2 separate regions of the Homo sapiens genome follow, and region 1 is linked to region 2. Evidence: fine-mapped expression QTL. A gene starts in region 2. The other region holds a variant in brackets. All regions are shown on one strand. Distances are from middle to middle. Region 1 overlaps SRRM3 (serine/arginine repetitive matrix 3). Region 2 holds the start of HSPB1 (heat shock protein family B (small) member 1).

Region 1 (2,902 bases), 31 kb after region 2:
ACCTTCTCAGTGCTCAGGGACAGGAATGCAATAATAAAAAAGAAAAGAAGGTCTCCGCATTGGGAATGCAGAATGGGGGAAAGACAGTGACCCTAAACTGTGCTCCCCCTCTGAGCCAGTAGATGGGTGGCCAATGTGGCTTTTGTCTCATCCCAGGGATGGGAGGGGGCTCTTGCACGGCCATTTCTGTTTGCTCTTTTTTTTTTCTCCTTTTTAAACAATGGGTTCCACTAGCCAAGCTTTCTTTATTGTTCAAACAACAGAAAACCTCCATAGAGCATGCAGGAAGCAGCTGATGGAAGAGAACCACAGGGTGGGCTACAGAGGGGCTGGCAGCATGGGAGAGAGGCCCATGCCGGGGGAGAGGGATGGAAAGGAAGAGAGAGAGACAGGAGGCAGACAGAGAGACAGACGAACAGACAAAGTCAGGCAGAGATAGAAATGGGAAGAGAAGGAGAAAGAGAAACAGAAAGACAGAAACAATGACAGAAGCAAACAGAAACAGAGAGGCAGGAAGAGAGAAAGGTGCCCCCAGACAGAAAGAGGAGACAAGCACTGTTTAAACAAGGCCAATCGGAGTGGACAGATGGGTGAAGGGAAAACGCGCATTTAAAAGGGAAGGCAACCACAGAGCCGATCTGGAGGAGTGGCCCTGCCTCAGGTCAGTCCCACTCCTTTCCCTCTGGCTTTGGCATCCTTTTAGCAAAATTCATCCCTTTTGCCTTTTTCTGTTCCTGTATAAGGCAGGTCAGGGGGTGCCTTGGCACCTCTTCTTGGGGGTCACCCGAGGCTGCCCATTACATGATAAAATTTGGACCACAGGGAGAAGCCAGAGAGAGCCCCAAGGCCATGATCCTGAGCCTTCTCTGCCACCCTCACCTAAGGGTGTCACCTTCCAGACAGCCCCGGACACTGTAGGGTTTTTTGTTTTTTGGGGTTTTTTTTTGAGATGGAGTCTCGCTCTGTCACCCAGGCTGGAGTGCAGTGGTGCGATCTCAACTTACTGCAACCTCTGCCTCCTGGGTTCAAGTGATTCTCCTGACTCAGCCTCCCGAGTAGCTGGGACTACAGACAGGATGATAGCTCACTGTAGCCTCCAACTCCTGGGCTCAAGTGATCCTCCCACCTCAGCCTTCCAAGTGGCTGGGATTGTAGGCATGCACCATCACATCTGGCTAATTAAAAAAAA[T/A]TTTTTTTTTGTAGAGATAGGGGTCTTGCTATGTTGCCCAGGCTGATTTCAAACTCCTGGTCTCAAGCGATCTTCGTGCCTCGCCCTTCCAAAGTACTGGCATTACCGGCATAAGTCACTGTGCCTGCCCCATCCCCTGAAACTTCTAACGCTAGAGACTTCTAAGGTGAGCAGGTGGCCCCTGGGACAGGAATGCAATAATAAAATAGAAAAGACGGCAAACTCTGTATACTCTTTTTGGGCCTTGGGAGGGTGAGCCTAGCACCAGGTTGTGCTGGTGGGGGCTGGAGGGAGGCCAGTGAAGGCACCAGGTAAGACTGGACAGGAGGGCTTCTCCCAGGAGGTCTCCTGATCAGTATCTTCCTCTTTCATCCTACATTGTGTGACCTTGAGTGACTCTCTTCCCTCTCTGTGCCTCGATATTTATTTCCCCACATGTATGAACTGTGAGGGTTTAGGGTTCCCTGAGTCACAGAAGAAACAATCATATGAGTTTCTGTAATGTGGGGGCCACCTGCACCCAGGTCTCTCAGTGTAGGCAGACCTTGGCCTAGGGACATGAGAGAGCAGGAAGCTGATTTCTGGATGGGTCTGATGGGGGAAAGCAGGAGCTGAGTCAACCAGCAACCACCTCCCAAATCCTCCTTCTGCTCAGGGCTCGTGGACTGTGCTTCCCATTTTCCACCCTCTCCACAGCTTAGCTGGAGTCTAGAGGTCAGAGTCAGAGGGCTGGAGTCTATTTTTTGTTGTTGTTGTTGTTTGTTTTGAGACAGGGTCTTGCTCTGTTGCCCAAGCTGGAGTGCAGTGGCGCAATCATGGCTCACTGCAGCCTCAAACTTCTGGTTCAAGCAATCCTCCTGTCTCAGCCTCCTGAGTAGCTGGGATTACAGGTGTATTCCACCATGCCCAGCTTTTTCTTTTAAATTTTTGTAGTGACAGGGTCTTGCAGTGTTGCCCAGGCTGGAGTACAGTGGTGCAATCATGGCTTACTGCAGCCTTGGACTCCTGAGCTCAAGTGATTCTCCTCCCTCATCTCCCTCAGTAGATGAGACTATAGGCACATGCCACCATGCCTGGCTGATTAAAAATATATATATATTTTTTGTAGAGATACAGTCTTGTTCTGTTGACCAGTCAGTCTGGAACTGCAGGCCTCAAGTGATCCTCCTGCCTCAGCCTCCCAAAGTGCTGGGATTACAGGTGTGAGCCACTGCGCCCTGCCTGGGGTCTACTTTTGGATCTACCTCTAAATAGCTGTGTGACCTTGAGCCAGTCACTTGACCTCTCGGAGCTGCAGTTTCTCCTGTAAGCATCAGAACCCAGAAAGTCCTGTGGGGTTCAACCATCACCTGGGATGGGCCAACAAAGGGGTTTGTTGGGAGTAACCACATCACTGGCCTCAGTCTCGAGATCAAGATGGATTTTTTTTTTTTGAGACAGAGTCTCGCTCTTGTCATCCAGGCTGGAGTGCAATGGCACAATCTCAGCTCACTGCAACCTCTGCCTCCTGGGTTCAAGCGATCCTCCTGCCTCAGCCTCCCAAGTAGCTGGTTTTACAGGTGCCCACCACGCCTGGCTATTTTTTTTTTTTTTCCGAGACGGAGTCTCACTCTGTCACCTAGGCTGGAGTGCAGTGGTATGATCTCCGCTCACTGCAACCTCTGCCTCCCAGGTTCAAGTGATTTTCCTGCCTCAGCTTCCCGAGTAGCTGAG
Region 2 (2,827 bases):
GGCGGCAGTCTCATCGGATTTTGCAGCTTCTGGGCCCCCAAGCTGGGCCCGCGACTCGAAGGTGACTGGGATGGTGATCTCGTTGGACTGCGTGGCTAGCTTGGGCATGGGGGCCTCCACGGTCAGTGTGCCCTCAGGGGACAGGGAGGAGGAAACTTGGGTGGGGTCCACACCGGGGGGCAGCCTGGACGTGCAGAGAGGAAAGGCAAGCGTTACATTACACACCGGGTGGGTCCCTGTGCCCTCTTCCCTGACCCCACCCCCACGCCACCCACCCACCCCGACCTGGCGCCAGGACTCACGTGTATTTCCGCGTGAAGCACCGGGAGATGTAGCCATGCTCGTCCTGCCGCTCCTCGTGCTTGCCTTTGGGGGGAAGAGGGAAATCAGACTGCGGGGGAGGGGACTGCCTTTCGGCCCCGCTAGGCCAGAGGCCCCACCTCCTGCTTGGAAGCAGCCAGGACTGCAGGCTGGTAGGGATTAACAGAGGGGGTTGGGGATGGGGGCGTGCCCGCCGGTCTGGGCTCTCAGAAACTTCCGGAAAGTTCTTCGATTCAGAGTTTTGGGAGGAACGGAGCAGGGCGCGGAGCTGGGGAGTGAGCAGTACGCAGGCGCACTTGGAGCCGCGCACACGCCCACTCAGCGGCTAGAAACTGGCACCGCGCCAGGGAACTCCCCGCTTATCTGGGGATGGGGCTGTGGGTGGGAAGGGGACTCTGTAGAAAAGCGCATTTTCTCTCTTCATCGATGATCTTTAAAAAAATTTTTGTTTGCTTTTTTTTTGTAATGGCGCGGGGTCGGGGCGGGGGGGCGCGTCTCGCTATGTTGCCCAGGCTAGTCTTGAACTCCTGGCCTCAAGCGATCCTCCCGTCTCGGCCTCCCAAAGCGCTGGGATTACAGAGCAGAAAGCGCCCTTAGAAGCGACCCGCACTCCCAATTCCTGAGCAAGGGAATCAGGAGTCCTGTTTTTCCCGGTGCTGGGCCAACGTTTAACTCCCCAGGCCCCCGGGACCCCCGTTTCAACCGCACGCCCCCGGCCCTGCCCGCCCTGCTAGCCTCCTCCTCTCCCCTGCAGGAGCAGGGGGGCTCACCGGTGATCTCCACCACGCCATCCTTGGTCTTGACCGTCAGCTCGTCCGGGGCGAAGTGGTTGACATCCAGGGACACGCGCCAGCGGTCCGCAGTGTGCCGGATCTCCGAGACCCCGCTGCTGAGTTGCCGGCTGAGCGCGCGGCTGTAGGCGGGCGCGGCCACTGCGGGGCTCTCGATGGCGGCGGGGGGCAGGGGGCGCACGTAGCCTGGCCAGCTGCTGCCGCCTAACCACTGCGACCACTCCTCCGGCAGCCGGGGCAGCCCGAAGGCCTGGTCGAAGAGGCGGCTATGCGGGTACCAGTCGCGGAAGGGGTCCCAGCTGGGGCCCCGCAGGAGCGAGAAGGGGACGCGGCGCTCGGTCATGCTGGCTGACTCTGCTCTGGACGTCTGCTCAGAAAAGTGCGGGGCGCTGGGCTCGGCTGCGCTTTTATGCTCCTCCAGTCGGGTATTTTTAGCAGGCGGTGTTTGAGGTCTCTATTAATGGCAATGACCCGTTTGAGGGCCGCCCCTCCCCATGCACTCCTCCCCCAGCGTTCAGGGGCCGTGGGCGGGGCGAAGAGGGTTCAGCCCTCATCTGGAACCTTCTCTCGTTAAGGAAAGCAAATGAATTCGAGAGCGCGACGCTGGAGCCGTGCCACGGCAGGGCACTCGCCGGCCCTGGTGCTTAAGCGTTGCTGGCTGTGGCCCGTGGCCAGGGCCGTCCTTCTGTTAAGGAGGACAGAGCCAGACAGGTTGGGTTGGGGCATACAACTGAGAAGTGGCAGAGGCAGGATTGGAACCACACGCGTGTGAGATAGAATGTGATAAAAGGAGTCTGGTGCTTGAGCCCAGGAGTTGAGGCTGCAGTGAGCTATGATCTCACCACTGCACTCCAGCCTAGGCAACAGATCAAAGTCTTGTCTCTCAAAAAAATTTTAAAAAGGGGCTGGGTGCATGGCTCATGCCTGTAATCTCAGCACTTTGGGAGGCCAAGGCAGAAGGGTCCCTTGAGGCTAGGAGTTTGAGACCAGTCTGGGCAACATAGTGAGACCCTACTTCTACCAAAAAATATTTAAAAATTAGCTGGGCATGGTGGTGCATGCCTGTGGCCCCAGCTACTCCAGAGGCTGAAGCAGGAGGATCCTTTGAACCCCGGTGAGTAGAGGCTGTGGTGAGCTGGATTGCACCACTGCACTTCAGCCTGGGCTACAGAGCAAAACCCTGTCTCAAAATAAGTAAATGAATAAATACAAATACAAAAATAAAGCAGTCTGGGCTGGGCGTGGTGGCTCACGCCTGTAATCCCAGCACTTTGGGAGACCGAGGTGGGAGGATCACCAGAGGTCAGGAGTTTGAGACCAGCCTGGCCAACATGGTGAAACCCCATCTCTACTAAAAATACAAAAATTAGCTGGGTGTGGTGGCGGGCGCCTGTAATCGCAGCTGCTGGGGAGGCTGAGGCAGGAGAATTGCTTGAACCCAGAAGGCAGAGGTTGCAGTGAGCCGAGATCTCACCACTGTACTCCAGCCTGGGTGACAGAGTGAGACTCCATCTCAAAAAAAAAAAAAGAAAAAAGAAAAAAGCAATCTAGTAATCTGGTGTGGTTGTTAGGCGTGTGGACTTTGAAGCCAGACTGCCTGAATTCACATCTTTGTTCCATCACTAAGCAGATGAACTTGTGCAAGTTAGATTCTTTGTGCCTCAGTTTCCCCATCTGGAAAATAGAGATGATAATGATGGTAACAGTCATGCATT

What was found.
Region 1: its variant is fine-mapped to the expression of HSPB1 in whole blood (TOPMed, PIP above 0.99).

Annotation. Positions count from the first base shown.
Region 1 is chr7:76,270,696-76,273,597 of GRCh38, reverse strand. The region is part of intron 11 of SRRM3 (serine/arginine repetitive matrix 3); the gene reads right to left. Among named protein-coding and RNA genes, the nearest start is that of HSPB1, 31 kb to the left of the region's middle. RefSeq lists enhancers at 372-461, 472-581. The variant T/A (reference allele first, on the strand shown) is at 1,190.
Region 2 is chr7:76,301,341-76,304,167 of GRCh38, reverse strand. It overlaps HSPB1 (heat shock protein family B (small) member 1), which reads right to left and starts at 1,495. Exons shown (of 3, transcript NM_001540.5): 1 at 1,092-1,495; 2 at 303-366; 3 at 1-184. The coding sequence starts at 1,455.